Homo sapiens: one gene and its partners. The protein of the gene in region 4 interacts with the protein of the main gene of each other region in a pairwise test. Each region holds a gene or a part of one and is shown on either strand. Other genes may lie near its edges. The genes, in order: LMO1, FAM161A, LMO3, NUTM1, RIC8A, CCHCR1 and PRKAA2.

Evidence for each region.
Region 1: the proteins of NUTM1 (region 4) and LMO1 interact in binary tests that used the Homo sapiens proteins (3 or more experiments, as listed by UniProt).
Region 2: the proteins of NUTM1 (region 4) and FAM161A interact in binary tests that used the Homo sapiens proteins (3 or more experiments, as listed by UniProt).
Region 3: the proteins of NUTM1 (region 4) and LMO3 interact in binary tests that used the Homo sapiens proteins (3 or more experiments, as listed by UniProt).
Region 5: the proteins of NUTM1 (region 4) and RIC8A interact in binary tests that used the Homo sapiens proteins (3 or more experiments, as listed by UniProt).
Region 6: the proteins of NUTM1 (region 4) and CCHCR1 interact in binary tests that used the Homo sapiens proteins (3 or more experiments, as listed by UniProt).
Region 7: the proteins of NUTM1 (region 4) and PRKAA2 interact in binary tests that used the Homo sapiens proteins (3 or more experiments, as listed by UniProt).

Annotation. Positions count from the first base shown.
Region 1 is NC_000011.10:8,229,379-8,232,878, forward strand, and holds part of LMO1 (rhombotin-1), read right to left. Parts: exon of another isoform or gene 3,494-3,500; intron 2,729-3,493; exon of another isoform or gene 2,601-2,728; intron 1,707-2,600; exon of another isoform or gene 1,591-1,706; intron 1,127-1,590; coding exon 913-1,126; intron 901-912; exon of another isoform or gene 183-900; coding exon of another isoform or gene 46-182; intron 1-45. UniProt on the Homo sapiens protein: May be involved in gene regulation within neural lineage cells potentially by direct DNA binding or by binding to other transcription factors.
Region 2 is NC_000002.12:61,830,061-61,833,560, reverse strand, and holds part of FAM161A (protein FAM161A), read left to right. Parts: intron 1-3,500. UniProt on the Homo sapiens protein: Involved in ciliogenesis.
Region 3 is NC_000012.12:16,596,163-16,599,662, forward strand, and holds part of LMO3 (LIM domain only protein 3), read right to left. Parts: intron 2,806-3,500; coding exon of another isoform or gene 2,733-2,805; exon of another isoform or gene 2,630-2,732; intron 1-2,629.
Region 4 is NC_000015.10:34,353,315-34,355,774, reverse strand, and holds part of NUTM1 (NUT family member 1), read right to left. Parts: intron 2,040-2,460; coding exon 1,903-2,039; intron 1,330-1,902; coding exon 1,043-1,329; intron 755-1,042; coding exon 638-754; intron 288-637; coding exon 1-287. UniProt on the Homo sapiens protein: Plays a role in the regulation of proliferation. Regulates TERT expression by modulating SP1 binding to TERT promoter binding sites.
Region 5 is NC_000011.10:213,161-215,613, reverse strand, and holds the end of RIC8A (chaperone Ric-8A), read right to left. Parts: intron 2,316-2,453; coding exon 2,196-2,315; intron 1,385-2,195; coding exon 1,264-1,384; 3' UTR 501-1,263; downstream 1-500.
Region 6 is NC_000006.12:31,144,871-31,147,802, forward strand, and holds part of CCHCR1 (coiled-coil alpha-helical rod protein 1), read right to left. Parts: intron 939-2,932; coding exon 826-938; intron 624-825; coding exon 578-623; intron 433-577; coding exon 296-432; intron 204-295; coding exon 15-203; intron 1-14. UniProt on the Homo sapiens protein: May be a regulator of keratinocyte proliferation or differentiation.
Region 7 is NC_000001.11:56,713,575-56,715,835, reverse strand, and holds the end of PRKAA2 (5'-AMP-activated protein kinase catalytic subunit alpha-2), read right to left. Parts: 3' UTR 501-2,261; downstream 1-500. UniProt on the Homo sapiens protein: Catalytic subunit of AMP-activated protein kinase (AMPK), an energy sensor protein kinase that plays a key role in regulating cellular energy metabolism.

The DNA of each region.
Region 1 (3,500 bases), on a different chromosome or scaffold from region 4:
GCCCAGACCTGGGCAGAGGGAGCCCCATGAAGCCCTTGCCCCGACCTGTTAATTAATGCGATGAGCCCTCCTTCCCCACAAGCCCGGCAACCATCCAGCAGCCTGCGACAGAGCCAAATGCAGGTGCTGGGTCTCAGCCAAGGCCCTGCTTTGTGGCCTCCTTCCAGCCTTGCTGATGTCATAAATGGCCTCAGGGAGGGTTAATTGGGGGAGGTGGCCCCAGGGAATAGGATCCAAATTGTAGGGAGGGTGAGTTAGAGCTCAGAGGAATGCAAGGCAGGGAAGCATCATTCTTTCACCCTTCACGGGGAAGTAAACTGAGGCTGGGAGAAGATTAGGAGCCAAAGGCTCACAGCTAGTTCCAACCCAGGTCTTGAAGCTCCAGCATCAGTGGCCCTGCTCCTAGGATATGGCTGCCTGCCAGTTTCCCTGGGCAAATGGATGCCTGCTCCCAAGGACCATCTAGAAAGGAAAGTTGGACACTGGGAGATGGAAAGAGACTGCATTAGGGAGGAGGGTCCTGGGGAAGTCAAAGCTTCCACACCTGTTCTCAAAGCCCCTCTGAGGTATCCCCTCCCAGATTCCAGATCAGGTGGGTCAGAAGCACCTGGCCAAGGCAGGGGGGCGGAGCCAGACTGGGGCCCTCGGAAAGCTTAACTTAGGGGCCCCAGGTTACAAATGCCTGCCCTGGACTTGTGCTGGGTACCGAGTCCAAGGGCATAACGACCTGGGCCTTCCCCTCAGGTGACTTCTCAGGTATCTGGGGCAAGCAGGGCAGGGGCAGGACAGTCAAGAATGAGAGGACACACAGGGTACTGGGTCTAGGGCCGGGGGCACAGTCACGCTGGGGCTGAGGATGGGGAGCTTTCTGAGCAGGACAAGGGCTTGGGAGGCCAGGGTTTGGCAGCCCACCTCAGGTAGTCGCGTCGGCACAGGATGAGGTTGGCCTTGGTGTAGAGGGTGGAGCCCACCTCGCCCAGGCGGCAGTCACAGCAGGCACACTTGAGGCAGTCTTCGTGCCAGTACTTGTCCAATGCCTTCAGCAGATAGCGGTCCTTGATCTTGCGGTTACAGCCCGCACAGCCCTTCTGCTTCCCTTTGGGCTGGACGGAGAGCATCGGCACGCCTGCAGACGGACAGACAGACAGCAACGCAGGATGGGCCCCGTAGCTCTGGGCCTCAAGGAATATCCCCCAAGAATGGGGAGCTCACTGCTTCTCTCTGCTGCCCCCTCTAGGTTTGGGGCTCCCAGGAGCCCTCGCTTTCTCCCCAATAACCTCCTCCCCTGGCTCCGGGTCCTGCCCTTTGGGCTACATGGCACAGCCTGTTTCCCTGGCCCTGTGAAGGTCCCTCCAGAGGCTGCTCTGCTCCAAGGCACACACAGACCCCAGGCCTGGCCTCCCTGAGTTGTTCCTCCCTACCATGGCCTCTATCCCCTGTGCGGTCTCATCCGGAGTAAGCCTGAAGCTCGTCTTGTGAAGCCACCATCACATTGGCTCTTTCAGCAATAAGCCTAAGAAATGTAGTCTCCTCAGGCCCACGAGGTCCTCTAGAACCCCCAGATCTTTGTGCCAACTCGTCTTTCTCCAGCTGAAGTGCTACAGCCTCTTGGTCTATCCATGTAGAGCTGTGATGGCATCAAGAAGGAAGTGAGACGCCCCTGGGACACTCCCAGGAGGGAGCAGAGGCTCTGGGGCTCCTGGCAGGTAAGCGGAGGCAGCTGGCAGGGCCTGGCTGGGGCTCCCCTTGGGAATGCTTCAGGCGGTGTCACACCTCACCTGCCCTGGCCTGGGGGAGGGCAGGCTCTGAGCCTCTGGATCCTTCCTCATTCTACCAGGATTAGGATCTCTCAGCCATCAGTCCCTCCCAGGGCCCATACCAGCTTCCCAACATACACACAGGCACCAAGTACAAAGGGCCCAATGTGATGTTCACCACAGGGCAGAGCCTCCCGTCGCGGCAGGCGAGCATGTGCGCTCACACACACCCCTCACACACAGGCACGACGTGCAGGTGTGGGCATGAAGTGACAGAGGCACGGGTTCCTAGTCCCTTCTCCTGGAACCACAGGGACCGTTGAGGAGGAGATGGGGACATATGTCGTCCAGTAGCCTGGACATCCATGTGGACCCGTGAGGCTGGGAGGGAAGTGCAGAGGACCTCAGAAGCCCTGCTCTGTGACTTGACAGGGCGGGAGCCTGTGGCAGTTGCCTGAGAACCCTTGTGAAGACAGGGAGCGTGTGCATGCTCCGTTCCTGACCAAGGCGCAGCTGGATAGGGGCCCACCCCTCCCCACCTCCCCGGCTTTCCAACACTCCCCTGGAGTCTGTCCTTCTACTGGCCCCGTCCTCTCCAAAGGACCCCTGCTCTCTCCAGGGCTCTGGCCTTCCTCCCATCCCCTGGTGTCCCTCCCATTCCCAGCCCTCCTCACTGCCCCCAGCCCAGAGTCTGAATGGTTGGGCTGCTTCCCTTCCTTTTGCTTCTCTCCTCCTTGGGCGTTAGGGGAGAACAAGCCACAAGAGGCCTTGGTCTCAGAATCCACAGATGTAAGGTCAGAAGAGCCCTCAGAGTTCTCCCAGTTAAATGTTCTCATACTACAGATGGGGAAATTGAGGCTCAGACAGTTACAGGGGCTTGAGTCAGCCACCGTCAAGCTGGCCCCAGGGCTCCTTCTCCTCTCCTGTGCTCGCTCTCAGCCCAGCTGGCTCCTCAGACTTCTCCTGGACAGGTGAGTCTGGGGAGCTGGCGCCCACCCACAGGCTACAGTGTGCAGGGCCAGTGGCTCCCTCCTCCTTCTCCTCCCTGCAGTCCCGGCAGGGCCTGTCTGTTAGCTGGTGAGTGTGCTGCCTAATTTCCTTAATGCAGCTCTAAAGGTTAATTGGTCTGAGAGAGGGATGGGGCACAGGATGACTCTGTCCTCGGGCCTGCCTGTGTCTCTTCTAGCAGGGCCCAGCCTGGCACAGAGCTCTGAAAGAGCCCAAGGAGGGCAGCTGGGGAGCAGATACCCCTGAGAACTGAAGGGGTCTTGTGAGGCTCCTTCCAAGTCCTGGCCTACAGGGAGGTGTGGGGAAATGGGAGAGGAGTTAAAATAGCTGGATGGGGAAATGAGGGGCCTCCCAGAGTGGGACCTGGACCAGGGTAGGGCTCCAAGGGCATGACCTTGTCCTTAGGCCCTGTGCAGGGAGCATGCAGCCAGCAGAGGTACGCACTCAAACACCGACTGGGAAAATCTTGGGCCAGGCCCCCGCTACAGCCCCTACAAGGCTCACGTTCCTTTTGCTCAGCCAGGCTTGCAGCAGGCCTGGCTCCCTTCCCAGTGGTCCTGAGCCCCTCCCAGGGCTCTATATTTGGGCTATTACCAGAACATGGGTGAATGGCTGGAACCTCCGTACTCAGGGGAGACCCTAGCCCACTAAATTATAGCCCAAAATGAAGGGAGACAGTGAGAGGCCCCAGCACGTGAAGCAGCTGTCCCACTCTCTCTTCCATCTACCCTGGCT
Region 2 (3,500 bases), on a different chromosome or scaffold from region 4:
ACGTCTTTCCATCTTTCTGTTTCCCAGTCAGCTCTATCACAGTTAGATCGGAATTCAGTGTTATAACTTAGTAAACAATGTTAGCAGCTGAGCCCTATATTATTATCATCACATTTCCTTTTTTTTTTTTTTTTTGAGACAGAGTCTCACTCTGTCACCCAGGCTGGAGTACAGTGTCACAATCTCAGCTCACTGCAACCTCTGCCTCCTGGGTTCAAGCCATTCTCCTGCCTCAGCCTCCTGAGTAGCTGGGATTACAGGTGCGCGCCACCGTGCCTAGCTAATTTTTTTGTATTTTTTAGTAGAGACGAGGTTTCACCATGTTGGTCAGGCTGGTCTCGAACTCCTGACCTGATGATCCGTCTGCATTGGCCTCCCAAAGTGCTGGGATTACAGGCGTGAACCACCATGCCTGGCCCATCACATTTCCTTTAAAAAAATTTTTTCTTGTGTTAATAATTACTAATTTTGTTTGGTCCTCCCCCCACCTTCCCTCATTCCCCACCAATGTATGTATCATTATTATTCTTAGGCTTTTCTGTTAGCTCTCAAAAATCCCCCTCAAACAGTTAAACACATTCGTAATTCATCAGTTCCTTTCCTCCCCTGGAGCCCACAAGTGTCCTGCTCCACTTTGGAATGGTTTCTCTCTAGGCCAGCAGTCCTCAACCTTTTTGGCGCTAGAGACTGGTTTTATGGAAGACCATTTTTCCACAGACCAGGGTTGCGTGGGGTGGGGTGGATGGATCGGGAAATGGATCATTTCAGGATGAAACTGTTCCACCTCACATCATCAGGCGTTAGATTCTCATAAGGAGCATGCAACCTAGATCCCTGGCATGAGCACTTCACGATAGGGGTCACCCTCCTATGAAAATCTAACGCTGTAGGAGGCAGGGCTCAGGCCATAATGCTCGCCCTCCCACTGCTCACTTCCTGCTGTGCAGCCTGGTTCCTAACAGGCCACAGACCCGTACCTAGTTCGTGGTAGGGACCCCTGCTCTAGGCCTCTGGCATAAACGACATCTTAGGACTTTTTCACTGTTATACTGGGGAGTAGTTAGATATTAACCTGGATTTATCTACATTTCTTGTATTTCTTTTAAAATCACTGTTATTTTATTCTAGTTCTGGAAGATTTCCTCAAATTTATCTTCCAAATCTGCATTTTTTGCTTACCTAATGAAAAATGACATAATTTCCAGAATGCTTCCCATTTATTAAATATTCCTTTGGTATTTTTCATGGGTGCAGTACGTTTTTTTTTGTTGTTGTTGGTTTTTTGTTGTTGTTGTTGTTGGTTTTTTTTTGTGTGTGTGTGACAGGGTCTTACTCTGTCCCAGGCTGGAGTGCAGTGGCATGATCTCGGCTCACTGCAACTTTAACCCCTTGGGCTCAGGCAATCTTCCCACCTCAGCCTCCCAAGTAGTTAGGACTACAGGCACAAGCTACCATGCCAGGCTAATTTTTGTATTTTTTGTAAAGACAGGGGTGTTACTGTGTTGTCCATGCTGGTCTTAAGCTCCTGGGCTCAAGAAATCCTCCTTTCTCGGCCTTCCAAAGTGTCGGGATTCCAAGTGTGAGCCACCACACCCAGCCTGTCTTTTATATCTCTGAGCATACTGGTGATATTGTCTCTGTTTCCTTCAAGTTCCTTTTTCTCTTTTTTAGCCTCTTGTCTATCATATTAGAAGCTTTCCTCAGATTATCTTTGGTTGTCTGTTTGCATTTAAGAGGGAGACTGCACAAAGCTATTTGGAAGCTGGTTTATAATGTTTTTTGAGAGGTTGCTGAAAGACAAGCACTCCACTAAGCACTTTATATGCATTGTCTTAACTGACCTTTACACTGCTCCTGTGAGGTTCTTATTTCACAGATGAGGGACATCTTGAGGCTTAGATGATACAACCAGAAGAAGGGGAACCAGGATTCAAACCCAGATCTGACTGTCTTCATGTGATTCTTTTATCTATCATATTGTTTTCCTGCCCCCTTCTCAACAAATGCTTTTTGAATATCAGAAAATCCCTTGAGACCCTTAAAGTCAGATAGAAACAAGACAGACAAATGTAGTCATTCAAGACACACAATTGCAGCAATTACAGATGTGTGTTGAGACAAAATTGTGAATATGATTGTTTTGGAGGTTGGGGGAATGGTCAGATTGATATGTTATTTTTTTCTGTTAACCTCAATTCCAGGGAGCAGGTACATAACCTGGGAATACTAATATTTGTGTTAGTGACATGCGAGGCTTGTTCCAACAGGTCTAGAAAAAAAAAAGGAAAGTAAATAAATGCTAAATTAAAGGAATCATTATGGGTGATACTATAATACAAGAAAGAAAGTATGAAGTATTATTTGGGAAGACCAATATTGAACACATATGCAGCAATGATTTATTATAGTGCTGTTTGTCTAAGAAATATCTTTTTTTTTTTTTTTTTTTGAGAAGGCGTCTCACTCTGTCACCCAGGCTGGAGTGCAGTGGCTCGATCTCAGCTCACTGGAACCTCCGCCTCCCGGGTTCAAGTGATTCTCCTGCCTTAGCCTCCTGAGTATCTGTGATTACAGGCGCGTGCCACCATGCCTGGCTAATTTTTTTTGTATTTTTAGTCAAGACGAAGTTTCATCATGTTGGTCAGGCTGGTCTCGAACTCCTGACCTTGTGATCTGCCCACCTCAGCCTCTCAAAGTTCCGGGATTACAGATGTGAACCACCACATCCAGCCAGAAATATCTTTATATTAGAAAAATTAGGCCAGTGACTCACCCTGTAATCCCAACACTTTGGGAAACTGAGGGGGGGAGGATCATTTGAGGCCAAGAGTTTGAGACCAGTGTCTACTGTTCTCATTTTTTTTTTTTTTTTTTTTTGAGACAGGGTCTTACTCTGTCACCCAGGCTGGAGTGCAGTGGCGTGATCTCGGCTCACTGCAACCTCTGCCTCCTGGGTTCAAGTGATTCTCCTGCCTCAGTCTCCTGAGTAGCTGGGATTACAGGTGCACACCACCATGCCCGGCTAATTTTTTTTGTATTTTTAGTAGAGACGGGATTTCACCATGTTGGCCGGGCTGGTCCTGAACTCCTGACCTCAAGTGATCCACCTGCCTCGGCCTCCCAAAGTACTGGGATTACAGGAGTGAGCCACCGTGCCTGGCCTACTGTTCTCATCTTCATATCTGTGTGTACCCAGTTCCTCCCCATTCAGCTGGTCATTGAGAGACCTGTCAAATTTTCTTCCTAAATAATTTTTGGATCTGCCCTTCACCATCCTTGGTGGTGAAATGCCAGGTGGAACCTTTATTTCCTATCTGAATCATAATAGTTTGATTGATTTTTCTGCCTTGCTCTTTGCAGAACCATTCATTATACCTTCGCCTTACCATTTTCATTCCCCTACTAAAATGTTAACCCTGGGTAGACAATTAATAAGCCTTTATAACAGGGACAATCATCCATTCTCACCAATTCCATTTATTCTCATTTTCAATGAATGA
Region 3 (3,500 bases), on a different chromosome or scaffold from region 4:
TTATTTTCTCTTTTAGAGTTATTATATTATTATATTAAAGCCTATAAAATTTGTAGTCAGCATAGCAAGCTTCAAATCATTTTAGTTAATTAGCAACTATGGTGAAGCATGAAGCATCACTCTTTCCCAGTAGTTTCATTTTAAACAAATCATCCTCACGTATAAAAATAGCAAATTGCATTAAATTTTATATAAGACATTTTACAGCTTCTTATATAGGAAAAGCTATAAGCAGCTTCCATGGCACATACCACAGCAAACAGCTTTGAATAAACTCTGGCAAGATATCATTCATAGAGATACAAGATACATACAGCCTATATAGACTTAATGCTTAAAGTACGTCACAAAAAGTTGCAGGTTCAAAGAAAGAACAACAAAAAAATTGCCCAGAAGTTGAGTTCCAGTTACATTCTGACATCCTTTATTGCCTTCAAGTTGAAAAAGAAAGTATTTTGGTATTTCTCCTAGTTCTATTTAATGCTTGCTGCAAAACATTAAATAAAAGCATGTAGAATTCCTAATTCTAAGACTCTGATTATGCACTGGCTGGCTACTTTATTCATATTTTTTCAAACTGAAATAAGGCGGATAGATCGCAGTGATGAGTACCTTAAACATTATCACTACAACTTTGCTATTTTTACACAGTCATTTTTAATCTACTTTAGACAATATCAATTTTAAGCTCCAACTTAAAGTACAAAGATGTTTCTATATCTAATTTGTCATAAGTTACTCTTCAAAAAAATAAAAATAATTATAAATGCATTGGATAGATTTTTAACAGATACATTTCTTGGTCTGCCTGGCATATAAATATTGACTGGGTAGATTTCATAATTTCAGTCAGAAACATGTTAGAGGAAGTTTTAAAAAGTCAGTCCTTCTCTTTCTTTAGCTAATGAGTTTCCAAAGGAGGAAAGCAATCCCACAAATGGGCAAATTCTGTCTCATCAGATATGTACATTTTATGTTCCACAGCTAAATGAATGATATGCCAGTCCAGTTCTGGAAAGTGAAAAATTCCACTGTTAAGATTTGATACTTAGTGTACAAACTATGGAAGATTTTTCTTTCTTTTTCTCTTAAATATAGCTACTAGTGCCATAAAGGAGAAAAAAAATGGAAAGACATCAAATTTTCCATAATAATAGTTTCTATAACCCTTAAGAAAATATCTTACAGTCTAAATTATTATATTTTCATATTATTTAATATCTCAAATCATCATTCAAAGAACTTATAAATCACATCATCATTATCACTACTCAAAGTAACACAAGTAAAACACAGATCTTTAAGTCTCATTGCTCATAATTAGGAGTGTTTCTTTCTTTCTGTTTATGGAGGGAGAAGTGTATTAAGAAGCTAAATGTAATTGGCAAAAATATTTTACTTTTCACTGTATGTAAAAAATTATCTGGCCCAGGACAATACTTGTAACCAACAATATATGTGGACAGGCAAATTACTATTTTATTACTTTCCTTATTCTTACTTATGTTCTTAATAATTTAGACATGAAATATAAATATGTAAGTTATTTATGTTCAGTTTGGTGCCTCAGAGAAATTACATAATATCAAAGGGCCAAAAATAAAACAACTTTTAAAATAGAACTTAAGTGATTAAACATTGGTTATATAAAATACAAAATGGAAGTATGCTGAATTTGGAGGAAAATGAGAAAAATTACTTTTAAAGCTCAGGAAAATAACCACAGAATATTACTTGTTCACTGATTATATTACAGATTCTATGTAATTAAATAAACAATTAGATAGTGGCAACTTTAGGTGTACCTTCCTTTTTCCTTTAGCTAATTTCACCCATTGCCTGAAATCATACCTCTCACACAGTAAGCATTTAATAAACATTTTTGAACAACTATTTGTATCTAATCAAAGAAATTAATTTGTAAATAAAATCTGCTTGACTATATTTGTTGATTTACCATACAGAATCAGACTATTTTAATTTGCCAATCAGAGACATATGCAGTTGAACATCTACACAATTTCACTGAGACACATGCTTTCCACATAAAACTAAATACCACATCTGCGGCATAATCTATAACACGTAACACAGTGTTTTACACACACCAATTCTCCACTTCACTTCTGCAATTTTAAGTGTTGATGAAGTTGCCAAATAAGTCACATTATATACAACAAACTTTCAGTTTAAATAAGGGACAAGATTGCTGTTAACAACTTAGTTTGAAATGTTAACAACCGTTAGGCTGTTAACATAACAACTGGCCATTAATGTGGTAATGACCAATTTAAGCGGAAATCGTACTCTGAGAAATGAATATATTGGCAATCAGGACCAGGGTTTATATTTGAAAGAATATTATATACTTTTAATAAGTTAACCACCATTAAAAGTTTGAGCCTATCAGGAGGTAACTGAAAGTTATTCTACAAAAAGCCACATACACTCTTATAGAGATACAAAAACTTCTGATATGAAAACTATTTTTGATAAATGCGTTTTAGCAAAACACTTGAGACTATCAAATATATTTTTACTACCACAAGGAAAAAGAAAACAAAACAAATCTAAGATTACTGTCTTTGCTCGATGCTATGTTGACAGCTAAGAAGCATGTTATACTCACAATATAGGTATTTCCTTGGCAAATTTTTATTTTTGTTTTCAAAAACCCCAGATATTTCAGTTGACATTCTTTCAAGTTTACTTAATTTTTGTCCTTTGGTTTATTAAAACACCTTAACATTGCCCGGGCTATATAAACTCCTTATTTGAAATGGTAACATAAATCCACTTGAGATACTGAAATTACAAACAAATGTAAAAGTCAAAAGGAGTCAAAAAGCTATGACTATTGGTTAGTACAGATAAAGCAAAACTAAAAAGCAGTATTAAATCACTAAAAGCAAATACAAATGCTTTATGTGGAAATGAGGCTCTAATTCACAATGGGCAGAAGAGAAATTTTTATTTCAAAGAGGAAAGTTCAAAGACCGGAGAGTTCTAAAAAAATGAACATTGTACATTAATTTTGATTCGTTGTGCCAACACAATGAGGGAAATCCTGGCTGGAGAGAGTGACTTCTCATTGTTGGCACCTTGCATGTGTTTTACGCACTTGGAACACAGAGAAGTAGTAACAAGTGGCCATAATTAGTCAGGAGGCTGTCAGATGAGGCCGTCCTAAGAGCGAGAAGGAGTAGAATCTGATAAACAGTACCGCTTTCACCCTCTTGTAACTACCATTAATCAAATGATATATTTTTATATCTAAAGATTGGATCTGACTGAAAATAGCTGAATTATATACTAAGAACGACCAAATTCCCTAGAAAACACCTCATCAAATGACCAAGGTACTAAAGGAGTTACCATTGATTGATAAATTTTGTCATAAGGGAAAAAATTCCAAATAAATCGCTTAATGTCAGACCAGAAAAATGATAAATTGTATTAAATATGAAAATCCCAATGATGCCATATATCATTTCTCTAAT
Region 4 (2,460 bases):
CTGGGGGATGGCAGAGTGTTCCCATCCCTGTGCATCCCTCTGGGGCTATCTAGGGCTTGCTCCTGCCCACCATGCACTTCTCTTGCCCGTTTTCCTGAAGAAGAAACCTTTCCAAGGCAAGCGGCGCCCCCAGCCCCCTGAAGCCCAGGTGAGGGCCGAAGCCGCCCATCCCCATCTTCATCCTCAACAGAACCAGAAGGACTTGAGTCCAACTGAGCGCCACTGAAACTTGGAGGCGCCTCTGCATCTTCCTCCTCTTCCAAGGCCATGAGTCGCTTCTGGACCAGCTGAAAGAAATGAACAAATAGTCAGTTCTATACGTGGTTGTGAAAGAGGTGGCTGAGTGGGTGGCACAAGACGGTATTTGGGCAGGGCAAGGAAGGCAAGCAAGTAGTTTAAGCGATGGTAGCAAAGACAGATACTGCAGCTCTTTCCCACCTTCTTGTGCCTTATTCCCATGCTTTGAGCCCTTACATTCTCATTTCCTGTGTTTCCATAGCCCTCTACCTACTCGTTCTGCACCTGAAGCCCAATCCTGAAGCTGTTCATCTCTAGAGCCATATCACCCACGACAGTGTAGGGTTAGATAAAATCTTGCAAGCTTCTCGTTCTCATATTTCCTATACCCCAGTTTTACCTGGGCAAGAGTGAGTCCTTCTTCTTGCTCTAGCTCCTCAATTAAGGCCAAGGGATCTCTCTGTTTTTCTGGGGACAGCAGATCTGCCAGAAATTGAGGGTGAATGACAGCCTCCACCTGGATAACAGAAGGAAAAGCGATGTAAGTCTGTAAGCAGGTAACCTGTGAAACAAGGGGCTTTACAGAAGAAACTAAGAGCTCCCCAACTCTCCCCTCTTACCCCTCCGGTATTGTAAACTGACCACCACCGGCTACACACATTCTCATGATGATGCATGCACACACATTACTCAGTTATAGAATAAAACCTAAGTCCTACTGCATTGGACAAACCCCAGATCATTAGTTCCCGGGAGTACCCACCCCAAGGATCTGCTAGAAACAAGATGTGCAGGCCCAGCTCACCTTGGAGACAAAGACCTTCTGAGAACACAGCTCATTGATGTAGCTCAGGAGACCTGGATCTGGATACATCCCTTCCTCCTCCTGCTGCTGCCCTTCTTCCTCTTGTTTTCCATCTGACTCCCCAGTGGCCAAGTGAGTCCCCACCAGCCATTCCATGATGTCAACATACTCCTTCACAGCTTCTGGTGGGATCTCCTTGGGTGCCTCAGGAGCAGGAGGTCTCTGGGCTTTACGCTGACGCCGGCGGGGGGCCCGTGTCTTGGAGGCTGCCTTCTTCGGAATGTACACTAAGGGAAGAGATGGACAGGAGAATGGGAAGTAGCACAGAAACCACAGATTCTGCCTCCTTCGGAATGTACACTAAGGTAAGAGATGGACAGGAGAATGGGAAGTAGCACAGAAACCACAGCTTCTGCCTCCCAGCTCTGTAAGCTCAGCAATCTGGGTACATTGAAATGGTTCCAGGCTGGATTGGGCCAACCTGAAAAAGCGCCAGCCATGGGAGATTTAGGACCTAGAGGGTCTAAGAATCACTGTATGAGGAATTTTGGAATCCCTGAGATTCCAAGAAACCCCCTAATCCAGTCCCCATTTCTTAGGCAGATGAGGTATTATGTGCTGAATTTAGAGTCTCGGTGAGAGTAGTCAGTTTACTTCACCAAGATCAATACCTAGTTCAGGGCAAAAGGAACCTGAGAACCCAGCCTCCTATGGGGTGGTCTGTTTGGAATATCAAATGCCACTCTCCAGAGGGAAAGTGGCAGAGCCTGGGCTATGCCTTCTCTAATCTGTGACTGGCTTCTGTATGCATCCCTTTGAGCCTTTGGCCCACGGCTCCTGTCAAAATTGGGTAGCCTCACCTGGCTGCTGGCAAACCTCAGAGGCCAGGGGCCCTAGAGGATCAAGTTTCAAAGGGGTTGCAGGAGACAGGCCCTGAGACCCATTCATCAGCTGTGTGTTCTGAATCTGCATCTCCTCAGCCTCAAACTCCATGAACCTGCAGAGGGTGAGAAAGGCATAGGCAATGCTGAGAAGGAGACCAGACCCATCAGAAATCCAGACGACAGCCAAGCATGGCCAAGAAAGGAAGTGCTCTCAGGTGGGCAAAGTCTGCCTAAGTCATGTCACCCAGGAGGGTGGTCACAGGTGGCTTAATCGTATTTCCAGGGAAACTTCAGGAGCTCAGCACATAGTTCCTTCCCCTATAGTCATAACTTAGGAAGCTTAAGAAAATGAATGGCCAGGTGGGGTGGCTCATGCCTATAAACCCAACACTTTGGGAGGCTGAGGTGGGCAGATTGCTTGAGCCCAAGAGTTTGAGACCAACCTGGGTAACACGGCAAAAACCCATCTCTACAAAAGATACCAAAAAAATTAGCCAAGAGTGATGACGCGCGTCTAGTCACAGCTATTGTGGG
Region 5 (2,453 bases), on a different chromosome or scaffold from region 4:
AGACAAAAGCACTTCCCATTCTTGAACCTTGCCTACCCTGGGCTGAGCTGACGGCAATAGATTTAATGACAGTGACTCCCAGGAAGGGGGTCCTGTGACTTTGCGCCTTAATAAGAACAAAAGGTGGAATTGGTGACCTAGGAAAACTGTTGAATTCTAAAAAGAATGAAGTTAGTTTCTAACCCTAGTTAATGTTCCTTTTTTATTTTTTGAGTCTTGCCCTGTCACTCAGGGTGGAGTGCGGTGTTATGATCTCAGCTCACTGCAACTTCCGCCTCCCGGGTTTAAGCGATTCTCCTGGGTAGCTGGGATTACAGGTGTGTCCCACCACACCTAGCACATGGGCATATTTGTAATAGAGACAAGGTTTTGCTATGTTGGCCAGGCTGGTCTCGAACTCCTGGCTTCAAGTGATCCACCCACCTCGGCCTCCCAAAGTGCTGGGATTACAGGCATGAGCCACTGTGCCTGGCCCCTTTATTTGATAATTTACACATACATTTTTGTCCAAAACTCTTCTTTATTTCAAGATGATGTTTCTGTGGCTATGTGTGGTATGTGGTATAAATCTCAATCTATGGTCACACGAGGGGCATTTTCCTTGTTGTAAGTGTAGTCTAAACCAGTAGGAAGGAGGTTTAATTGCCAAAACCAGCGAGAACTCGGGCACTGTGGATACTACAGTGGGCAGCTGAACGAGGACCAAGGAGAATGTCTAAGAGGCCTCCAGCCCTGCGCTCAGTGAAGACAGGACAGGAACAACAGAGCATACATACCTTGGAAGGGTGTGTTCTGATATACTCGTATGGAAAGTTCTGACAGGTTTTCTCCCTGGGAAGTGCAGCACATACCCCAACACACTGGCTCTGCCAGTGTGCCAATCCCAGATGGTGCTTGCTTTGTGTGCACCCACACCCAAACCCCTGCCCTCCCATATGCTCTTCTGTGTGCCCAGGTAGGCCCTGCCCTCAGGCAGCAGCTTCTGAACACATTCCTCTTGGCGCAGACAAAAGAAAGTACTTCGTCTGTGGAATTCGAGGCTGAGCCTGAGTTCTAGCACAAGAAGACCGTTGCAGTCCAGAGATGAGAAACTGGACCAGAGGCAAATCATGAACAGAACGGGAGTCAAGAGAAGGGGTTTCTAAGATGGAGAAGTGGGGGCGGGTGTGGATCCAGTGGGATGTGGCTTCCCCAGGTTGCAACCCCAAGGAAGTCTCTGGAAGCAGCACCAGTCCTGATGGGGGAGCAGAAGAGCTGCCATCCTCAGTCAGGGTCCGAGTCAGGGTCCGAGGAGAGCTGCTGCTCCATAGTCTCGCACATGGCATCCTGCAGGGACGTAAGATGACCCCGGGGACTCATCCCCATTGGCTGGATGACTCTGTTCCTGTTGGGGAAAGGTGCAGTGGGGCTGGGGAAGGGGCCCAGTTGGCCAGGCAGGGGTCCTACTCACCCGTGGCTGCTACCTTCCTCTCTACCAAGTAGGCTGCTCCCATTTACTGGGGAAGCCTGGTTGGACCTTCTGTTAACTGGGCCCAAACCCTAACTGCTGCCTCCTGGCTTTAAGCAGTTTCCTATTTTAAACATCTAAATTGGCCTTAAGCAGGCTCTTAATTTGGACACTGGGCCATCTCCAATAAATCTGGCGACATTAGTCTCTTTTTTTTTTTTGAGACGAAGTCTCACTCTGTTGCCAGGCTGGAGTGCGGTGGCACAATGTCAGCTCACTGCAAGCTCTGCCTCCTGGGTTCAAGTGATTCCCCTGCCTCAACCTCCCGAGCAGCTGGGACTACAGGCGCCCACCACCACGCCCAGCTAACTTTTTTTTTGTATTTTAGCAGAGATGGGGTTTCACCATGTTGGCCAGGATGGTCTCGATCTCCTGACCTTGTGATCTACCTGCCTCAGTCTCCCAAAGTGCTGGGATTATAGGCGTGAGCTACCACGCCCGGCCTTAGACAGTCTCTTAATTTCTCTGGGCCTCAGTTATCATCTGTAAAAGGGGCACAATACTGATCTCAATATACCCATCCCCTGGGGGATTTCCTCCAGGGCAAGTGATTTCAAACGTGAGCAATGCAACCTAATACCAGGATCCTAAGCTCTCCTCTGATCCTACCTCCTGGGGCTCACAAGACAGGATGTGGGTCAGCTCTCCCTTCTCCCAGCTGCAGGCCCCTCCTCCTCATGCCACACACCTGGAGAGCTTGTCAAACATGGTCACCAGCTTCATGGCCTCGTGCTCCTTCTGCTCCTCTGTCATGCCCTCCATAGGGTTAGGCGGCTTCTCCTCCACCCTCCCGGTCACAGGGTTTATGCTGTTTCCCAGTGGGTGGAATGTGGGGAATGCATTAGTGACTCTCCAGGACAGGAGGCAAGCCACCTATTTTCCCAGTGGGGTGAGGTGGGCAAGGCAACTGCAGGAAGAGGCCTCCCTCCAGAAGCGGCACAGGTAA
Region 6 (2,932 bases), on a different chromosome or scaffold from region 4:
TTCCCTCTCGACACCTTGCCCGTAGAGTTCCTGCTGCTGGGTCAGCTCCTGCCGCAGACTGGCAGCCTCCTCTGTGCTCTCCTGCTGGCCCTGGCGTGCTACCTCCAGCTGCAGCCCCAAGCTAGCCAGGGACTCCTGGGTCTGCTGCAGCTCCTGCTCCAGCTGCTGGGCCACCTTGCTCAGCTGCTGCCGCTCTGCCTCCCCTAAAAGGAGGGGGTGCTGGGTCAGGCCTCTCCCAGCACCCTAGACACCGGGTTTTTCCTCATCCTCTCCACCCCCTGGCAACCAGGTGTACCTTGCTCCCGAGCCCGGCCCACCTCCTGCTGGATGAGGCGGGCACTCAGCTGCAGTTCTGCATCCAGGCGGTTCCGTTCTTCCCGCAACTGCTGCAACTCAAGGCTCACGTCTGTGACCGGTGGTGGTAGGGGACAGCTGGGACGGGGAAGAGAAAGAGTCAGAAGAAATCACCCAGCTGCCTGATCCCAAAGCCCCCATCCCACCTCAGTCCTCATGGTTTTGGGGGTCCCAGCAGCCAATGCCCTAAAGCCCCATCCACCTCAAAGTGCCCAAACTTCACCTCTCCTGGCGCAGCTGAGCAAGGGCAAGCTTTCGAGCAATCAGGCCTGGAGGGGAAAAAGCAGGGAGAAAAAGAGATGAAGTTTGCATGGGAGAAAGTGGGGACAGGGAGTAAGGGAAAAAGAGATGCAAGGACTGGTGAAAGGAGGAAGGTGAATGGATGTGGGATCAGAGAGAGCTGGGTCAGGAAGAAGAAAGTCCGAGCTGGTGGGGTGGGGGCAGGACGTGGCTCGCAGTTGTCCTACGCACCCCGAATGGTGTGGACCTTGCGGACAGCATAGCTGAGTCGGTTGTTGAGGCTGGGAAGCTGGGCGGCAGCCCCTTCCACCTTAGCCATGGTGGTCTCGAGCCAGATCTGAGAGCTGGAGAGGGCACAAGTCACTGATCCTCCATGCCTCCCCTCATTCCCAAAGGACTTGCTGTGCCTTGTATAGACAACTCCCTCTAATCCTGTCCCATTATACAAGTACAGAACGCACAGCTTCCGTCAATTATCTAAAGGACCCTTGCCCCAAGAATGCATTAAATGACTATCTTTTTAAGCAACCTGTTAAGCTTATTTCTCACAACTGTGTTTTGCTCACTATCGTGTATCAAAGAGTAAAGTTATCCTCTCTGATCAGGGGCAGTGGCTCCTGCCTGTAATCCCAGCACTTTGGGAGGCCGAGGCGGGCGGATCACCTGAAGTCAGGAATTGGAGACTAGCCTGGCCAACATGGTGAAACTCTCTCTACTTAAAAACACAAAAATTAGCCGGGCATGGTGGCTCATGCCTGTAATCCCAGCTACTCCAGAAGCTGAGGCACGAGAATCACTTGAACCTAGGAGGTGGAGGTTCCAGTGAGCCAAGATCGCACCCCTGCCCTCAAGACTGGGTGACAGAGCGAGACTCCATCTCAAAAAAACAAAAGAAAACAAAGTTATCCTCTCCAAGCCCAGGAGTGTCGATCTAGCACCAATGACGGGCAGGTCCACATGCTTTACCAGCTGGCTGTGCCAGAAGTAGGACCAACCTGGCTCATGAAAACTGAGCAGCTTAAACAGGCCCCAGGAGGAGGCCAAGGAGTGTCTGGGGCCGGGCTGGGGTTTCCTCAGGAGAGTCCAGGTCTGCACCCACAGAAAAACACATGATGATGAAGGCTTGCAGCTGCATCCCCAGCAGCACAGCAAAGTTCACTTTGATCTGGAAATTGTTCCAGTAGATGCTTCCAACACCTACCACAGCCCTTATTAAAGTCTCCAATTACCTAGAGACAATCTAATAAACCCAGCAACAATCAGAGTTTGGACTGCTTTAAGCCTGGAGGACTTTCGGCAAATGCATCATTACACAGACCATTTCTGTGATCGCCTGGTACCAAAGTCAAACCCTGTCCACAGTGCATCTTTCTGTTCTCCTGGAGGTAGGGGGCACCCGCGATGGATTGAACCTGGGTGGTAGGTCATTATAACTAGTTTAATTCCGTGCAAGTTTGAAATTTTTCATAATTTTTAAAGCTAAATTAGTCCCTAAGGTACAAATCCAAGAGAAGGAAGTGATGGGCAAGGACTCATCCTGCATCTTAATTTCGCTAAACCAAAAATTATCTTTATCTAAATTAACCCATCAAGAAGAGCCTCACGATAACAATAAACATTTACAAGCCAGAGACTGTGCTAAGAACTACCTGCCGGCCAGGCACGGTGGCTCAAGCCTGTAATCCCAGCACTTTGGGAGGCCGAGGCGGGCGGATCACGAGGTCAGAAGTTTGAGACCAGCCTGGCCAACACAGTGAAACCCTGTCTCTACTAAAAATACAAAAAAGTAGCCGGGTGTGGTGGTGTGCACCTGTAATCCCAGCTACTCAGGAGGCTGAGGCAGGAAAATCGTGTGAACCCGGGAGGCAGAGGTTGCAGTGAGCTGAGATCGTGCCATTGCACTCCAGCCTGGGTGACAGTGCGAGACTCTGTCTCAAAAAAAAAAAAAAAAAAAAAAAGAACTACCTGCCTTGGGTACCTCAGTGTCTAAGGCTGAGGGGAAGTCATCACCAGCACAAAGAAGCTTTGCTGTTTTCTTAGAGGTTTTTCTGAAGGTCATACAACAATTGTAGGTAATGAAACAACTAGGAAGTTGGTAGGAGAGACAAAGGCTGGCAATTGATTTAGAAGGAAACTAACTGGCTTACATTTTAGATGGAATAGTAAGCAAGTTAAGTATATAATAAGCAAGTAAGTATATAGCTTTAAATAAATAGACTAGGCCAGGTGCAGTGGCTCACACCTATAATTCCAGCACTTTGGGAGGCTGAGGTGGGTGGATCACCTGAGGTCAGGAGTTCAAGACCAGCCTGGCCAACATGGTGAAACCCCGTCCCTA
Region 7 (2,261 bases), on a different chromosome or scaffold from region 4:
CTTGTTGCTGGTTTTGAAGATGAAGGGAGCCAAGGGCCAAGGGATGATGGCCTCTAGAAGCTTTAAATGATTCCTAGCCAACAGCCAAAAAGGCAACAGGGACCTCAATCCTACAGCACCATGGAATGAAATTCTGCCAACAACTCAATGCAACTGGAAACAGATTCTCCTCCACAGCCCAGCCCTATCAATGCTTTGGTTTTCAGCTTGTGTGACTTGAGGCAGAAAAACCAGCTAAGCCTGCTGGGTTTCTAACATATAGAACAATAAAATAATTTGTATTTTAAGTCGTTAAGTTTGTAGTAATTTGTTACAGCAACAGTAGAAAACCAATGCAATAACTCAAGTTAAAAACTATAATGTACAACTAAGATGACAAAAATGAAAAAAGATGGTGTGAAATCACCAATGAGTATAGGCAATCTTTTCCACTAACAACTTTCCTGTAACTATTAGTTGGTGTGCAGAATACCAGCATAATGATGGAGCAGAAACAAAAATAGCTTTCAAATGAATCAGAGACTTTTAATTTGATTTTGTGAAAAAAGCTTATAAGCAATCAGACAGGCTGCTTTTCTCCTTTGTGTTTGTTACCTATGAGTTTCATATGGTGCAAACATTAATTAGGAAGAATCTGTAACTATGAAATGCTATGTAATTCAGGAAGACATCTTTTCCATATGGTTAATGAAAGACAAATCCTTCCCATATCATTTAACACTCACAAAAAGTATATAACAAACAAAACTGAAATTTGAATCGGAGTTTATTTGAACAGAAAAGCACTGGAAGTCTGTTCATTTTTTTTTCTTGAAACCAATTATAAAAAGTGGTCCCAATTTCAACAATTAAAAAAAATTTTCAATAAATACGTAATGAAGTACTTCAATGGGTCAATGTATCAACCTATGGATTTTTTTTTCTTTTTCAAAGGTATGCTAAGAATGAATGAATGCAGGATGTTTTTGAAAAAAAGTAAATATTATATCCTATATTATGATTGTCATGACACAACCAAATGGCTGTTTTCAGTTTTATTTGTTGCATTCAAAATCCACTGTATATTTAAGCATACATGACAAAGAACACAACCATTCTTCCTAAAACAATAAAGATACTATCCTTAGAGTTCACAGTTCTACAACAACTTTACATTAAATGTTCAAAACATTGTACAACCACAGATATTTGTGAACAGTCTTGAGAGCTGTATTTTGGTACATTAAGGCAGCTTCAGCCAACATTTTAAGAGATTCTGAATATTTGTTACAACACAGGACAAGTTTGATATTTGAATACTTGAGGTCTCAAGAAATATTAAATGTCACCTAACAACACCACAATTTGTGAAACTGTGATCTTACCTAAAAATCAAGATACTCATCCTATCAGTATCAAAGATACTTATTTTTTTTAAAAAAAGGAATTTACATTGAATGTGGGGATATAAACCCTGTATTTAAACAAGGGCTTTCAAACAGTTGCTCACACACATCTGTGAGGTAGGTTATTATCCACATTTTGTAAATCAAAAAACTAAATGAGGTTACGTGACTTGCTGCTGCTTCAGCAGCCAAAGGAAGAAACTGATTCCAAGTTAGATTTTGTTCTTAGCTCTGAGTTGTTTCCTTGACAAACTTTTTAAAGGGTTAAAATATAAAAACTGCCATTCATCAAATTCATTTATAAAGCATGAGAAGGTAGCCAAATGTTATGTTTACCAAGGTGACTTATAAAGTCAATCAACATGAAAGAAATAGGAAAATACATTTAGTGAACAACTTCTGATAGTGATAGGGAGAGGTTTGACCAAGGGAACTCAATCAGGCAGATGCAAACAACATGATCATTTGTAGGAGGCAGATCTAAGGAGAACTGAGAGGGATTAGAAAAAAAGAAAATATAGTTTAAACAAGTTTTTACTATTACTCTTCTTATAATTTAAGGGAGAAGGCACAATTTAGTGTTTTTTTTTTTTTTTTTTTTTAGAACAGTGGATCTCTCTTCCACTTTAGGAAAATGTTATCTGTCTAGAAAAATGGCCATTTTTGGTAGCAAAACTTAAATGTGTAACTGTGAAAAATGCACGTTTAAATTAGTAGAAAAAAAAATAACAATGCAATTCTCCTTGGCTAGAATGTTTTTGTTCCTCCTTGAAATTTTAAATCAACACAACGTAGCAACCCTCCCTGCCCACCTCAGAAAAGGTCACACTGTATGCACTGTATGAACCTTGTCAAAATTCTACGTATTATTCAAAA